Homo sapiens: one gene and its partners. The protein of the gene in region 1 interacts with the protein of each later gene in a biochemical or structural test. Each region holds a gene or a part of one and is shown in the gene's direction. Other genes may lie near its edges.

What was found.
Region 2: the proteins of FLNA (region 1) and ITGB1 form a complex in vitro, tested with the Homo sapiens proteins (3 studies listed by BioGRID and IntAct).
Region 3: the proteins of FLNA (region 1) and ASB2 form a complex in vitro, tested with the Homo sapiens proteins (3 studies listed by BioGRID, with this or other methods).

The regions. Positions count from the first base shown.
Region 1 is NC_000023.11:154,347,906-154,350,663, reverse strand, and holds the end of FLNA (filamin-A), read left to right. Parts: intron 1-456; coding exon 457-633; intron 634-796; coding exon 797-1,015; intron 1,016-1,098; coding exon 1,099-1,302; intron 1,303-1,627; coding exon 1,628-1,815; 3' UTR 1,816-2,133; downstream 2,134-2,758. UniProt on the Homo sapiens protein: Promotes orthogonal branching of actin filaments and links actin filaments to membrane glycoproteins. Anchors various transmembrane proteins to the actin cytoskeleton and serves as a scaffold for a wide range of cytoplasmic signaling proteins.
Region 2 is NC_000010.11:32,920,231-32,927,230, reverse strand, and holds part of ITGB1 (integrin beta-1 isoform 1A precursor), read left to right. Parts: intron 1-1,121; coding exon 1,122-1,360; intron 1,361-3,490; coding exon 3,491-3,646; intron 3,647-4,495; coding exon 4,496-4,591; intron 4,592-4,884; coding exon 4,885-4,974; intron 4,975-6,845; coding exon 6,846-6,986; intron 6,987-7,000.
Region 3 is NC_000014.9:93,973,571-93,980,937, reverse strand, and holds the start of ASB2 (ankyrin repeat and SOCS box protein 2), read left to right. Parts: upstream 1-4,367; 5' UTR 4,368-4,504; intron 4,505-7,367. UniProt on the Homo sapiens protein: Substrate-recognition component of a SCF-like ECS (Elongin-Cullin-SOCS-box protein) E3 ubiquitin-protein ligase complex which mediates the ubiquitination and subsequent proteasomal degradation of target proteins.

The DNA.
Region 1 (2,758 bases):
CAGCCTCAGTGCTGCCCGGCCCTTCAGCCACGGCCATGGTACTTGTGCACAGGCCTGGGGCAGCCTTGTGGGTAGGAGGAGCCCAGTGGGCTTCATTTCACGGCCTAGTCCTGCCCTTCCCAGCTGCATGACCTGAAGCAAGTTCCTGCCCGTCTCTGAGCCTGTTAACATGCAGGGGATATGGTGTTCACGGTAACCTTTCTTAGGAGGCAGCAAGGCCTGGGTTTGGCTTGTAAAAGATTTCCGTCCCAATGCACCCTGACGGTGGGCAGCTTGAGTGTCTAAACCTTCGGCCCTCAGGAGGTCTGCTGCGGGGTGCAGGTGCCCAGCGTGGCTGGGCTCACACTGATGGACCGGCAAAATGGGGAGGGCCAGGGTTGAGGCTGTTCCTCACAGACACCATCTGCTGGTTTGAGGAGGGGCCCCAGGCCCACAGCATGACTCCCTGCTCCTCAGATAAGTATGCTGTGCGCTTCATCCCTCGGGAGAATGGCGTTTACCTGATTGACGTCAAGTTCAACGGCACCCACATCCCTGGAAGCCCCTTCAAGATCCGAGTTGGGGAGCCTGGGCATGGAGGGGACCCAGGCTTGGTGTCTGCTTACGGAGCAGGTCTGGAAGGCGGTGTCACAGGTAAGTCTGTCGGTGCGGCTGCACGTGTGCACACAGCTGCTAGGCCCTTGCCTCCAAGCTCTTGGTGACAACAGGAGGCACCTGGAGGTGACAAGCCTGTGCTGGGTGGCCGAGGACAGGGAGGCAGGCCAGTCTGGCTCTGCCTGACCTCCTGTGCTCCCAGGGAACCCAGCTGAGTTCGTCGTGAACACGAGCAATGCGGGAGCTGGTGCCCTGTCGGTGACCATTGACGGCCCCTCCAAGGTGAAGATGGATTGCCAGGAGTGCCCTGAGGGCTACCGCGTCACCTATACCCCCATGGCACCTGGCAGCTACCTCATCTCCATCAAGTACGGCGGCCCCTACCACATTGGGGGCAGCCCCTTCAAGGCCAAAGTCACAGGTGAGCCTGGGGCCAAGCTATTGGCATCTGCCCAACGCCCGGCACCACAGCCACCTCTTAGCCCCACCCACTCTGCCTTGCAGGCCCCCGTCTCGTCAGCAACCACAGCCTCCACGAGACATCATCAGTGTTTGTAGACTCTCTGACCAAGGCCACCTGTGCCCCCCAGCATGGGGCCCCGGGTCCTGGGCCTGCTGACGCCAGCAAGGTGGTGGCCAAGGGCCTGGGGCTGAGCAAGGCCTACGTAGGCCAGAAGAGCAGCTTCACAGTAGACTGCAGCAAAGCAGGTGGGCAACCTGGGCCCCCGGCCCACCTTCCCACCAAAATGAGGCCAGAAATCACAGGATGGCCAGTGTCTGGGAGAGCAGGGACCGCCTTTGGGGCGTGGCTTTCACTTCTAGAGCCACCTCCCTGCCACCTCCTGGACCCCTCAAACAAAGACCAGGGAGGAGCTGGAATCTGCTAAGCTGGCCTGGGTTGGGGAGGTGCTGGCAGCTCTTTAGGAAGAGAGAACTGTCACCCCAGAACTGGCTTAGGGACAGGAGAGGAGAGCAGGACACCAGCGGGAGGAAGGGGGCTGGGACCTGGGACTGAGGACCCCTCTTGCCTCAGGCAACAACATGCTGCTGGTGGGGGTTCATGGCCCAAGGACCCCCTGCGAGGAGATCCTGGTGAAGCACGTGGGCAGCCGGCTCTACAGCGTGTCCTACCTGCTCAAGGACAAGGGGGAGTACACACTGGTGGTCAAATGGGGGGACGAGCACATCCCAGGCAGCCCCTACCGCGTTGTGGTGCCCTGAGTCTGGGGCCCGTGCCAGCCGGCAGCCCCCAAGCCTGCCCCGCTACCCAAGCAGCCCCGCCCTCTTCCCCTCAACCCCGGCCCAGGCCGCCCTGGCCGCCCGCCTGTCACTGCAGCCGCCCCTGCCCTGTGCCGTGCTGCGCTCACCTGCCTCCCCAGCCAGCCGCTGACCTCTCGGCTTTCACTTGGGCAGAGGGAGCCATTTGGTGGCGCTGCTTGTCTTCTTTGGTTCTGGGAGGGGTGAGGGATGGGGGTCCTGTACACAACCACCCACTAGTTCTCTTCTCCAGCCAAGAGGAATAAAGTTTTGCTTCCATTCTCCTTTGCGTGGCTGTAGCTTTGTTGGGGTTGGGGGACCAGTCAAGGCCAACCTGACAGGGGTGCCAATGAGCAGATCAAAGCATGGGCTGAGCACAGGTCACCTCCCTCCAGGGCTCCTGCTTCACCCCACCCTGACTCCAGAAGGCACCATCTATCTTTGCTTCCTCTGCCTCCCTGAGTTCAAGCCAACGTAAGGAGAGGAACATGTAGCAACCTGGAATGGAGCCCAGGCAGCAAGGAGGCAAAGAGCTGGGCAGGAGAGCCCATTACTGGGTAGGGTGGTGTCAGGAAGGCTCCCTGGTGGAGGTGGCCAGATAATCAACAGCAGGCCCGGCCGGGTGTGGTGGCTCACGCCTGTAATCCCAGCACTTCGGGAGGCCGAGGCAGGCAGATCACAAGGTCAGGAGATCAAGACCATCCTGGCTAACACGGTGAAACCCCGTCTCTACTAAAAATACAAAAAATTAGCCAGGTGTGGTGGCGGGCGCCTGTAGTCCCAGCTACTCGGGAGGCTGAGGCAGGAGAATGGTGCGAACCCAGGAGACAGAGCTTGCAGTGAGCCGAGATCGCGCCACTGCCCTCCAGCCTGGGCGACAGAGCGAGACTCTGTCTCAAAAAAAAAA
Region 2 (7,000 bases), on another chromosome or scaffold:
AGCCCTATTTTAGTGGAAACATTTAAAAATAGCACTTGCTTAAAATGTTCTTTTATTCTGTAAGCATAATTCAAGGACCATGGCATTAGGGAGCTCCTATCAAATTAGTGTTTTTTAAAATGGCCAGAATTCTAGAATATTTGTTTATTCATTTGTTCAGCATGTCATTATTGAGAGCTGGTGTGCCAAGAAAATGAATGTGAGTTATTTTTAAAGTAGGGAGGCAAAATAAAAAGATTGTCTTAGGTCTTAGTCCATTTGTGCTGCTTTAAGAAAATACTATAAACTGGGTGGCTTATGAACAACAGAAATTTATTTCTCACAGCTCTGGAGGTGAGAAGTCCAAGATCCAGGCAGATTGAGCATCTGGTGAGGTCCCTCTTCTGGGTTCATAGATGATACCTTCTTGCGATGTACTCACATAGCAGCAGGGAGACAGCAGCTCTCTGGGGCTTCTTTGATGAGGTCACTGTAGGAGTCTATTCTTACGTTGCTATAAAGACATATCTGACACTGGGTAATTTATGAAGAAAAGAGGTTTAATTGGTTTACGGTCCTGCAAGCTCTACAGGAAGCATGGCGCTAGCATCAGCAAGGCCTCTGGGGAGGCCTCAGGAAGCTTCCAATCGTGGCAGAAGGCAAAGTGGGGAGCAGGCTTCTCACATGGTGGGAGCAGGAGCAAGAGTTGGGGAGAGATGCCACACAATTTTAAATAACAGATCTCATGAGAACTCACTCACTGTGGTCAGAATAGCACCAAGCCATGAGGGATTGATCTGCCCCCATGATCGAAATACCTTCCACCAGGCCGTACCTTCAACATTGGGGATCACATTTTAACATGAGACTTGGGCGGGGACAGATACCCAAACTGTATCAGTTACTAATCCCATTCATGAGGGCTCTGCCCTCATGATCTAATCACCTTCCAAAGGAACCACTTCCTAATACCATCATGTTGGGAATTAGGTTTTCAATGTAGGAATTTTGGGGTAACACAGACATTCAGTCCATAGTAACCTACATTTGGTAACATAGATGAATTTTTTAAACAATGCAAATCTCTGTCTTTCCATCTATCCATCCATTCATTCATTTATGTACCATTTTTTTCTTGGCAGGATTTGGCTCATTTGTGGAAAAGACTGTGATGCCTTACATTAGCACAACACCAGCTAAGCTCAGGAACCCTTGCACAAGTGAACAGAACTGCACCAGCCCATTTAGCTACAAAAATGTGCTCAGTCTTACTAATAAAGGAGAAGTATTTAATGAACTTGTTGGAAAACAGCGCATATCTGGAAATTTGGATTCTCCAGAAGGTGGTTTCGATGCCATCATGCAAGTTGCAGTTTGTGGAGTAAGCGCATTCATTTCCTATCAGGGGATATTGTTTCTATTATGTGTGTGAATTTTAAGTGTGATTTTACTATGATAATAGAAAAATTGACCTTAATTTTCATAGATTTGATTATCTTAGAGAAGTAATTTTAAGTAAACCCTTAAATTGCCTGTATACATAAAGTGCCTTTATAAAAGCATATTTAATCTTTATGCAAACCACACAGTTAGTTTATTCATGCGGGCTTTTAAAAGACAGAATGCTAACCATTTGAAACAGCGGGGCAACCTCTCTGTACTGTAGCTGGTGGTCTGGATTTTAGAAAAGCCCATGTGTCCTAACTTTCTGGCTTTGTACTAGAGATAGAATTGATGTTATTATCTGAGGCATCACCAGGAACCTTGAAATTGCTCAAAGGGAGAGTGTCTTGTATCATTTTCCTTTGGTCAGTTTTCTTCTCACTGTCTTTGAAAGACACATCTTTCTCCTGTGTCTTAGTAATTCAAAAAGAGAGAACTTTTTAAGCTCTAGTTTTTAACCTATATGAATAGATGTATTTTGAGAAGTGATACAATATTTGTAATTTTAATTGTAAGATTTTCAGTAGCAAGCCCATCCCTATTGGTTCAATAATTTGTATTTTATGATCCATGTAGCAGCTATGTATTTTGAGATGACACTTTAATGATGTGGCTGAGGCTGAAACTAGAAGACATTGTCATGTCAAGTTTGTCCTGCGTACCTACTCTTGTCTCATTTTTGTTCCCTCCAGTGCCCCCATTCTCTAGATGACCTTCTTTGATTTTAGAGGCCTCTTAGTGGTTATTTTTCAGTCAATTTTTGCTAAGGTGCTAATTGATGCCCAAAATAATAAGTGAAGGAATATGGATAGTAATTAAGAATTTTTCTATCACCACTGATGCTGGGCAATTTACTCAGCCTCTCCAGGGCTGTTTTCTTCTCTTTAAGAAGGGATCATGATAGTATCTACCTCATAGGGCTCTTGTGAAGTTAAAATGCATCAATCTCTATAAAGTACCAATGAGCATTCAGCAAATACTAATTCCTATATTGTTATTACTTTCGACTTTTCACTAGAGTGTTTGCAATTTAAGGTTAGTCCCTGCTGTTATAGCCGAAGCAAGTAGCATTCCAGGTAGTACCTAGCCTTACACCTCTTTTCTTACTAGCCATTGATGTGTGAGCCTGTTAGCAGCTCGTTGTGGGGAGGGCATTCTCTGGGCTGCCTCTAACTAGGCCTTAACCTGTGGTATTAAACAAGCCATAACACCCTTGATTGTGGCTGTTTTTCTGTGTTGGTCATGCTGATCCACTCCTCTAGATGCAAAAGAATCAGACATTCCACTTTTGAAAGATTGCCAGTATTAATAAATGTGATTCCCACCTTAAAGTATTTTACTGTCTTATGAAGATCTAAACAGACGTATTAAATAAATTAACGAAAGCAGGTAAATTCCTATAGTCCTATGATTTTATAATTATAAATTACCATAGTGACAAGAAGATTTTACAGTTACTTTAGATTCTTTATTGGAAAGGGCAAGGATAAAGTAAATGAGTGCATAAACAGTACTGATTGAGGAGTTAGAATGGGTGAAATTATCCTTAAACAAGATACTTATTTCTGTTATAAAAAAAGGAAGCCTCATATGGTGGGCTGATAAAGAAGGTGCATGGCATAGAACATAGAGCAGAGATGGGTGGATGGGGACAAGACAGCAGCAGTGGGGTAAAGTAAGGATAGGCTCAGACACTTTCATTTATTCAGCAAATGCTCATCAAGGGCTTACTGCTTGCCAAGCAGTGTGCTGGCTTGCTAGCTGCTGGAGATATGATGATAAGCAGAACTAAACCAAACCAAACAAAACAAAAAAACAGTTTTTAAAAAGAACTGAGAGATTGAGAGATACGGATGGTCAGGCAAGATATCGTTGTACATGGGATGGAAGAGCTTCATTCAGTGGGCTTTGTGTGTTTCTCAGCAAGATAATTACCATTGTATAAAGAGAAGACACAGAAAATACAGAATTAGGTTAAAAATACAATGGTGGCCTATATGAAAATTAAAGGATTTTTGTTGAATTACTGTGAATAGTGTTTTAAAATTGAAATCCTTTTCTTTTCAAGTCACTGATTGGCTGGAGGAATGTTACACGGCTGCTGGTGTTTTCCACAGATGCCGGGTTTCACTTTGCTGGAGATGGGAAACTTGGTGGCATTGTTTTACCAAATGATGGACAATGTCACCTGGAAAATAATATGTACACAATGAGCCATTATTATGTAAGTGCCTGGTTCCTTACATAGTGAATGTGTTTATGTTGGATTTTAATGTTTAATACTAAGAGCTTGTGGGTGACTGGCTTGGGGTTTCTCAGGGTTTGAGGTTTTGCTGTTTTGGTAAGTAGGGGTCCTGATTGAAAGTGCAGGAAAGCTAGTGTTGCTGTTTGTGAAGATGCAGCTTTGTATTTGCTTCCTTCTGCTCAGACAAGGGCCTCACTGGGGTGGGAAAGGGATGCCCAGATGCCACTTTCACTCTTTGCCTCAACTCCCCGCCCACAGCATTTGGTAGCACAGTCAGTACTCTTTCTAAATAAATAATTTATCTAGTCTCATACTCTTTGTTTTATACGATTTTTAAAAGCAGTCACTCTGCCTTTATTGAAAATAAATATTGGCAAAGCATTCAAGTTCTAGAAGAAATCCAAATGGTAAATCTTGGTCTTTTTCTTAAGTTGTAGATAATAGAATATTTAATTACTGACTATTCTTTAATTTCATTGTCCTTATATTTAATATACATAGATAAACTTACTATTTAAAACCTTTTGAATATGGAATTTTTTATTCATACATGAAAGTAAAGAGAAGAGGATTAGCAATTCATGTATACACACGACTCACTTCAGCAGTTTATATTTGATACTGTTATTTGAAAGCAGTCTTGTAATCTAGTTATATGTATGCAACTAGATGTAATCTAGCTATATATGGATTATATATGTAATCTAGTTATCTAAAGCAGTCTTGTAATCGAGTTATGTGTAATCTTGCATGTATAACTAGATTGAAAAATTAGAAGAGATTATAAGGGTGTATTTAAATACTAAATTATATTACTTGATTTCTTAGGATTATCCTTCTATTGCTCACCTTGTCCAGAAACTGAGTGAAAATAATATTCAGACAATTTTTGCAGTTACTGAAGAATTTCAGCCTGTTTACAAGGTAAATGTGTGAGATAAAAAGAACAAGATTCTAAACATTTTTGATTGTTAGAGGCAAATCATGTCTGAATTGAAATGTGGGAAAATGCCACCAGATAGGCAAACCGAATTTTACAAAAGTGGTTTATATTAATTTTTAATCACATATTATAAAACTGGTTTCTAGGTTTGACTCCTAAAGTTAGTTAGGAGGAAACATGGGAACTGGCATTTAAAGATAAAAGTTGCTCAGTGGATCCTAATTGGTTGAATGAATAGCAGTTGTATTTTACGTGTTTTATCTTTTAATTGCAGGAGCTGAAAAACTTGATCCCTAAGTCAGCAGTAGGAACATTATCTGCAAATTCTAGCAATGTAATTCAGTTGATCATTGATGCATACAATGTGAGTACATCTTAAATAAGATCAGTTTTGGACAATACCCTGTTGAGAATACTTTGTACAAAGAAAGTAAAACTTCCTTCATACACACTTTAGCGAGCCCAAAGTACTACAGAAAAACTTAAATTCTGTATGTATCTAGAGGAAAAACTTTATACATATTGTCTTACAAAAGCAAGATTCATGGCCTAAACAAAGTGAAAATGTGATAAAGGCATGTGGGGAGTATTTCCAAATAACTGTTTGTTTATCATTAAGGAATAGATCTCCTTGTTAGAAAGCAATTGTAAAACATAACTTACATTTAAACTTACAGGATTTCTCCAATCTTTTTCCTCCCCAAAATATCCTTTATAGAGTCATCTATTCTGATGAATTGTGCTAGAAAAGTTTTTTTTTTTGCCAATTCTTCTCTTCCCATATATTCAGAGGATATGGGTTTCTATTTCAGGAGGTACACACTCATATATACGTATACCATAAAATATATAAAAATGTAAATATACATGTGATTTGCCTATTTCAAAAAGATTTATAGTGTTGTTTTCCCCTCACAGATGGGAGGAAGTTGAATTGAAATTAAAGAGGAATTGGCTTATCCTTTTTGAGCATAATTCAGTGTACTTTAATCACACCGAGTTAGCCTTCATTAATAATCATTTAAATAATCTGAAGGCGGTTGTAATTTGGTAGGTAACCCTTGTGTGTCTCGTGCACCACTTTCAGCCCCCATCCCCCTAACCCTTTGGCAGCTTGAATTTTAGACATTTTTACTTCATGTCATGGGGGTACCATAACGCTTTGGAAAGGCCAGCCTACCATATGAGGCTTCCCTTTTTTATGGGGTACCATAATGGTTTGGAAAGGCCTGACTTGGAGGGGTTTTTATAAAGGTTTTTAATATTTTACTTGTTCCACAGCTTTTCCCATTCTCCCCTGTCTTAGATAATTTTCCTAACTCTTGTTCTTTCAGGGGTGTGAACAAGAGATAGCTTGCCATTGTACCCTTCTCCATTTGTCCTGAATAGTCTCATATGTTAAACAAGCCCTGGCTTGAATCCTTCCTTCTTGGGGGATTTTGTTTTTTTTTTTTTTTGGCTGGGCTACAATGGTTCCTTAAGCAAATTTGTTCCTAGACTGCATAGTTGATTGTTTACCCTAGTCCATAGTTAGCTGGAGAGGTAGGACTACAGAAATGCCATTTTGCCGATGGGGAAGACAGCATTTATTTCGTTTTTTTTTGGGGGGTTTCTGTTTTTGTTTTTGTTTTTGTTTTTTAGATGGAGTCGCACTCTGTTGCTCAGGCTGGAGTGCAGTGGTGTGATCTTGGCTCACTGCAACCCCTGCCTCCCGGGTTCAGGCGATTCTTCTGTCTCAGCCTCCCGAGTAGCTGGGATTACAGGTGCACACTGCCATGCTTGGATAAATTTTTTTTTTTTTTTGTATTTTAGCGGAGATGGGGTTTCACTGTGTTGGCCAGGCTGGTCTCCAACTCCTGAGCTCAGGCAGTCCACCTACCTTGGCCTCCCAAAGTGCTGGGATTACAGGTGTGAGCTACCACACCCGGCCTATTCCACATTTTTAAGACTCCTCCTAATTAGTAACAGCCCTCTGCACTGTGTGATCCTGAGTATTTTAACTCAGTGATTAAAACAGGAATACTCTTTTCAATTGTGTATTTTATTTTAAAGATTTGATCCTTATTAATTAAAACCTGTTTCTCTGGCCTCTGTGTTTTCTAGTTACTCAATTGGATTTGGCTTGTAGATACTTTATTGAAATATATTTTTTTCTGAGCAGTTTATCCATTGGTTTTATGCATTCAAGTAGCATTTTGTTTGACTTTTCCTGTGTATAATTAGGCATTCTTTTAGTCCCTTTCCTCAGAAGTCATTTTGGAAAACGGCAAATTGTCAGAAGGCGTAACAATAAGTTACAAATCTTACTGCAAGAACGGGGTGAATGGAACAGGGGAAAATGGAAGAAAATGTTCCAATATTTCCATTGGAGATGAGGTATGTTGTATAAA
Region 3 (7,367 bases), on another chromosome or scaffold:
CCGGGGGCTCTTGGCTGGCTCTTCCTCCTCCACTCTCCTTCCCTCCTTCTGGAAGAGGTGTCACTGTCACAGAAACATGTGCTGGTCTTGGTTCCCCCTAGACCCGACTAGGTATAGGGCCCTGCAAATGGCCTCTCCAATACATACATGCACCCCTTTATTCCTGGGCATTCAGGCTGACATAAACAGAGAGGGATGTCTGGAAGGGAGAGACCTAAAGTGTGTGTGTGTCTTTGTAGCCACCGGCCAGGCTCGGGTTGGCAGGCAGAACCAAGGCCCTTCCCAATTCTGCCTCAGGGACTGTGGGCTTGAGTGTGGGCACACATGTCCAACAGTTATGGAATGGGCATCTCTTATGTGCCAGGCACTGCTATAGACACCGACACACAGCAGTGAACAGAAGGACAAAGTATTCTAGATGGAAGAAACAGGCAATGCACATATGGGAGATAAATATAGAATAGGTCAGCAGGGAGGATAATGCCAGGTGAGGGGGTAGAGTAAGGGAGGGCAGGTTCTAGTTAGGCTTGGGAGAGTGAAACCCACCTTGGTTCCAGGTGTGAGTCCTGGGGCTTTCCTGTGGTGGCCACATTCTTCTTCCCACTCCCTTGCAGGTTGATCAGTTGCATAGTTTCTGCCTCTGCATTTTTATTCCCCTTCTATTCCCTTTGTTTCCCCACAAAAACCCTCCCTGGAGGGCTGTTCCCAGGGTAGCTGGTGGGCCTTGTGCAAAGTTAGGGACCCCGGAAAGGCTCCAGAGATCACTGAGGCCAGGGCTGCTCAAATGCTCACCGTAATTTGTCATCAGGGGTGTGCAGATTAAAACTGCAACAAGATGCCACGGATGCCCATCAAAATAGATAATATGAAAAAAGATGGAGGCTGGGTGCGGTGGCTCGCGTCTGTAATCCCAGCACTTTGGGAGGCTGAAGCGGGCAGATCACCTGAGGTCAGGAGTTCGATACCAGCCTGGCCAACATGGTGAAACCCCATCTCTACTAAAAATACAAAAAAAATAGCTGGGCGTGGTGGTGGGCACCTGTAATCCTAGCTACTTGGGAGGCCGAGGCAAGAGAATCGCTTGAATCCAGAAGGTGGAGGTTGCAGTGAGTCGAGATCTCACCACTGCGCTTCAGCCTGGGCAACAGAGCAGGACTCCATCTCAAAAAAAAAAAGAAAAAAGATGGAATCTACCAATTGTTGGTAAGGATATAGAGTGACTGGAACTCTTATGCCTGGTTGATGGGAGTGCAAACTGACACAACTTTGGAAAGCCATGTGACAGTTTCACTCAAGTTGAAAGAAGACCTAAACTCTGACCCAGTGATCCCCATCCTAGGTGTATACCCAAGAGAAAGGAGTATGAATATTTACCAAAAGACATGTACTAGAATGTTCATAGCTACACTCTTCATCATCGCCCAAAACTGGGAACCACCCAGATGTCCATCAACAGTAGAATGAATAAATTGTGATATATTCATAGCATGGAATACTACACAGCAATTAAAATAACAATCTACAACTCCATGAAACAATATGGGCAGGTCTCGCAATGTGTTGTTAAATGAAACGAGACGCAATGATTTCATTCACATGAAGTTCAAAGGAACCTGTCCTGCTAGCAGTCAGGAGAGTGGTCACCCCTGGCAGGAGGTGGTGGGTGGTGGGAGCTCTTGAGGTGCTTGTAATATTCAGATGTTGGGTGTGTCCAGTCTGTGAAAATGTACTGGGCTGTACATATGTGAAAGTTGCACTTTTTTGTGGGTATACTGAACTTTAATAAAAAGTTTTTAAAAATCAGTCCTGTTTGGGCCTCGACACAGATTATTTAAATCAGAATCTCTGGGGTGGGGCAGGCATAGGTAAGTGTAATATGATTCTAATGAGCAGCTAGGGCCAGATCCCAGCACAGTTCTCTTTCCTCTGGGTCACACTGCCTGCCCTCCACAGGCTCGAGTCAGATGCTTGAACGCTGTCCCTGCCTTTGTCAGGAGAGTGTCTGTGCTTTAGGACATCAGCGTCTGATCCCATGGGGCATGGTTCCCACTGGCATGGCTTTCAATGTGTGAATTATTCTGCCCCCAAATTGCCAGGTGATCTCAGAGAAGGCACAGAACCTCTTGGGGCCTGAACTAGTAAATGAGGGCTCTGAACACCAGGATAGCCAAGAGTCCCTCCAGTTAGAGGGACCACAATTCCCCTGTAAGACAGAATCTCAGCCAAAAGGAGCTTCTGGTCTGATAAACCCAAGAACTGGGAAATGACTTGGGACTACATTCTTTTGTAAAGAGTGAGGTAAAAAAAAATTTAGTTTGAATCTGTTTTTCTTCTTTTAAATGGAAACAAAGACAAGTGGAAAGTCAGAAAAAAGTTCACGGGTAGCACACGAGAGCTGAGGAGCATGCAGCTGAGACCGCAGTGAATATTTGGTGAGTGTCTGGGTTGATTATTACTACATATCAAACTACCTCAATCCCCAGTGGCACGAAACAATCCTTTTATCATAGCTTGTGGTTTATGGGTCAGGAAGTTGTGGGTGGTTTGTCTCTGCTCCACGTGGCATTAGCTGTGGCAGCTGCAGGTGAAGGATCCACCTCCGAGAGGGTGTCTTCACCCCTCTGCCTGGTGCTAGATGCTCTGGGGGCCCTGGGTGTTGCTTGCTTGGACTTCCTCACAACATGGCAGCTACAAAGCATCTCATGACCTAGCCTTGGAAGTCTCAGGACATCATTTCCACTGCATTCTATTGTTAAGTCCATCACTAGGCCACCCCATATTCAAGGGGAGGGAAGGAATAGACACATCTTGGATGGAGTTTGGGGTGTGTATGTGTGTGTGTGTGTGTGCATGTGTGCATGCCCATGAGGCAGAGGGCAACCTAGGAGGGGCCTGGCCTGGCCACAGCCCACCTTCCAGGTCAGATTGGGAAGGGGCAGGTGGTGGGCAGGAAGTAGAGGAACCTGTGTTTTGCCTCCAGCAAGGAGCCCAGGAAAGCAGCCCGGCCTCGGGGAGCCGTCCCACAGAGACGTCTCTCGGGGAACATCCTACTGGGTAGCAGAGTCTCCAAAAAGTAAAAAGAATCTGACAGCCCCTTCTCTGCCCTTCTCCTACACTCCCTCCATAGCACATGGGTCTGGAAGGGGCTGAACTTGAGCTAACTTTGAGGGCCACCCAGCCACAGTGGCCTGGGAAGACTGACCCAGCTGGGGTGATGAGCAATTTGGCAGGTACCAGGGAAGCTGGGGGACTGCCTGGGGACCACTGGTGTCCTTCCCATCTTTAGCACCAGTCAGACCTCCAGAACCTTGACTCAACCCCGTGGCACCTTGTATACTGAGATGTATTTCCTTGTGGAATATTCGAAGTGCGTGTAAAGGCATCCTGAGGTTTCCTGAGTTTGAATCAGTGAGAAATCATGCTGTGGCCATCATAAATCCACATCCTCCAAGGGGAATGGGCCACTGAAACAAAAATGATTCTCCCCTTAGAGGAACAGACCAAGTCATGTTTCTGGACCCCTAACTCTGAGGCATGAGATGTGAACACACGGGTGGGAGAGTAGGTGCCTGGCCATGTCCTGTCACATCCCGGATGCTCAGTGCATGTGGCTGTGTATGTGTTGTCTTTGACATTTGACCTATTCCAGAAATGGGACGTTCTTCCCTAGACCAGGAGGAAGGGCTCTCTTCTGTTGTATATCTCTGCCCAGGGCTTGCCCGCATGCCTCTGTGTTTGTTTGTTGGCTCATTTGTACCCTGGCCCTTTGTATCCCCAGCCCCACCCCACAGTATCCAGCAGCCAGACACCTGCTATCCCCAAATGCTGCCACAAGCTCAGCACCAAACCTTGATTTCTCCAAAGCCCTTTTACGTCAACTCCTTCATCTCCTCTCTCCCCTTCTTCCCTTCTCTTTCACTCCATCCTCTTCCTTCCTGCTGTCTTGCCTTCCCTCCTTTGTTGCCTTTACTTCTCCTCTTCCCCTTTCTTCCTCCTCCCTTGCTCCTCACTCTTTGTCTCCCAACTATGCGTCTCCTCGTCCTCGTTCCCTGCCTCTGTCTCTGACCCACTGCATCTCTCTCCTGTCTGGCTCTCCCCTGGGTAGTTCCAGAAACATACCCATATATGGCCTCCATGTCAAGGATCACAAATGATGACATCACGTGAGGGCCAAAGCTCCGGGATCCTCTCTGAAGTGAGAGTCTGTATTCGATGCACCCGGAGGAACGGAAGGCAGGATTGCAGCTTCCTCAGTGCAACCTCCAAACAGGAAATCTGAGATGTATAACATCTTATAGTTTGGCTTGTCAACGTTGGTCATGCGGTGGCCCCAAAATAAACTCCCTGCTTCAAAGGACAGCGTTTCAGAACTGCCTGGCAGAGCAGCCAGAAGCTTGGGGCCAGGGCAGAAGGAAAACTCGGGGAGCATGTTCTGAATTAAGACACTTTCAAGAAAATCCTTTGTATTACCCCTGAATTGTACCCTTGTTTCAGAGCCTAACAGGTAATGCATGCTTTCAACTTTCTTATACAGATCTTGCAAAAGATTCTTTGGCTGGTGGGGATTTTCGGCTGCAGTACTTACTGGAAACCGCTTGTAGTCAAACTGTGATGTTGCTTTTCCCTCTCTCTCGTATTTTCTTGAGTTATACAGCACGCTGGTGACTTTCGTTTTGGATGCAATGAACAGAGACTCAGCAATTTGCATGTACTTACCCATTCTTCTGGAGGACTCTGGCTCAGAATATCACTCTGCTGTGCACTTCTAAAAATGGAAATGCAAAAGGACTTATCAATGATGCTATTGTTGGGTCTGTAGGTCTTGGGCGGTATCTGTGTCAGACAAGTGACTTTCAGAAATGCTTTCAGGCCAGGCGCACAGATAGAGGTTTTCATGAGTGGGAGTTAATTTAATGTAGCTGTTGCAGAGTGCCTAGGCATGCACGGTATTGTGGGAGACCATAGCAGCCAAGGTGCCATGTGCTCTGCTTTCAACTGTTTGGGGATTAGGAGAGGAAATGGAGGAATGTTATTTATGTGAGATCCAACAAAGCTGTGGAATGCAGGGATGCAAGAATACCATGCATGTGTGTGCACACGCATATGCATGACACATTTAAGGAGGCCATGGCCTTTGAAAGGATGGGTGGGATGCCTCAGGGTGGAAACAGAGACCTCCAGGTGGAGGAGCAGCTTGGGCAAAGGCAGGGAAGTCAAGGGACCTGGGGTGATGATGGAAAGTGAAATGTGGCTCTGGCAAAGGGTTCTGCATGTGAAAAATGGGGGTGAGGCTAGAAGGGGAGGCCAGAGGGAGAGGCACATCCTTCCAGGCCAAGCAAGAAGTTGGAACACTTTCTGAGAGTTTTTGAGCAGAGGACGGCATGCACATAGCCACATGCATTGAGCATCTGGGATATGAAGGGACACAGCCAGGCACCTACACTCCCACCCGTGTGTTCACATCTCAGGCCCCAGAGGTGGAGGCCCAGAAACATGACTTGGTTTCTGGTGCCTCTAGGTGGAGAATCATTTTCATTTCAGTGGCCCATTCCCCTTGGAGGATGTGAGATTTGGCTTCGGTGGCTCTTCGGGAAGCCAGGGGTATGCACTGGAATGAGGAGGCAAGGAGGCTGGTGACTCCTAGGGAGGGCAGGTAAATGAGGAAGGCCTGAAGCAGGGCAGAAGCTGAGCCCCTGCACAGGACAGGAATGCTCTTCTGAAGATAAGCTTGTTTCGTGAGGCGAGGGCTTGAGGGGGCTCAGAGGGACGCAGGCAGAGCCAGCTGGGGCCAGCACCCCCGCCACAGCCCTGACCTCTGCCTGGGCAGAAGCACCATGAGGCAGACAGTGGCAGATGCTCGAGGCACTTCCAAAACAGTTGGACGGGTCCTGACAGCTGGTGGCAGGCCCATGTGCTGCACAGCGTCCCCAAGAAGCTGGCAGCAGCTCCGCTGGGTGCCATGCTGGTTTGCATCATCTGTTCTTGCACAAACAGGCCGGGTCATGAGTGCCTTGTGGTGGCGGGGGTGGGGGACACTGTCTAACCCACGCACGGTGACCTCACAGTGAACAACAACACAGGCCATACCAGCAAGCCTTTGTTGAGCACTGGCCCAAGCTTGTGTGCAGATTTCTCTCACTGACTTCGGTCAAGGCTACCATGAGTTACAGGTGATCGTTACTCCCATTTTCAGGTCTGGAAACAGGTTATGAGAGCTTAAAAGTCTTGCTTAAGGCTGGACGGCTGCAAGTGTTGGAGTCAGGAATCTGACCTTTTGGTCTGCAAGGTCCACATTCAAAGCCACAGCGTCCTGTGGCCTCTCAAGGTACTGTGGCAGTGGTAAACAGGACCATCGTGCACCCAGGGGAAATGTCTCTGGCACACTCAAGGCATCATAAGGTGCCCGTATATTGTGGACAGGCTAGATCCAAAGAGCCTTCCCAAAGGAGGCACAAAAATATCTCTGGGCCTGCCCAGTGTCCTTCCATTTCTGCGCTGCAGAGGATCAGGCTGCCCACAGGAGCCAGCTGTCACAGGAGTGGCTTGTGTCTGTGGTTCTCTTTCCTTAGCACCATTGTTTGGAATAATTAACGCCCAGGAATATAAATGAAGTTATTAAGAGCTTTGTGGTTGGGAGGAATGTTTTTGGGGAGGTGGTGCTGAAATAAAGGTAAATTGAAATTCCTAAACTATCTGTTTTTTAAAAAGAATGGGACATAGAGGAGTAAAAAAGGAGAGAGGAAAGCAGAGAAAAGAGAAGAGAAAGATTTAAATGGAGGCGGGGTCAGGGGAACTCAGAGGAGAGAGGATAAAAAAGGAAAAAGAACCTCGCCGATTTGGGTGAGATCTAACTTAAAAGATTTCCAGCCAGCCCTGCAGGTGAGGAGGGGCTATGGAGGATTCCCCCTGCCCTGCCTGAGCCTTCCCGCTCTGCTGCCTGGAGTTAAAGCCTCCAGAACCCCCTGTGTCTTCTGCCACTAAGGAACCAAGGTGAGGGTCCGCCGTCTTTGTCTGCCCAAAGGACAGAACAGGGCTAGGCGGGCTGTGCTAGGGCAGGGGTGCTGGGGAGGCTCAGAGGTGGACTGACCAGCCCCGTCCACCCCTGTCACCCCCACCTTTGGTCACTGGCACAGATGGCAGATCCTGGCATTGGTAGTGCCTGGGCAGAATATGGGTCAGGGGCCTGGAATCCTGTGTCCTGAGCTGTGAGTGTCTGAGCCACACAGATGCGGGGAGGGGCCAGCCTCTGGCAGGGCCAGGAGGCAGCAGAAGGGCCCTTCACTCAGGAGGTGGAGACGAAGGTCACCCATGGGCCTGGAGACTCAATAGCTCAGGGGCCCAAAGAAGTAAACTGGAAGCTTGACTTT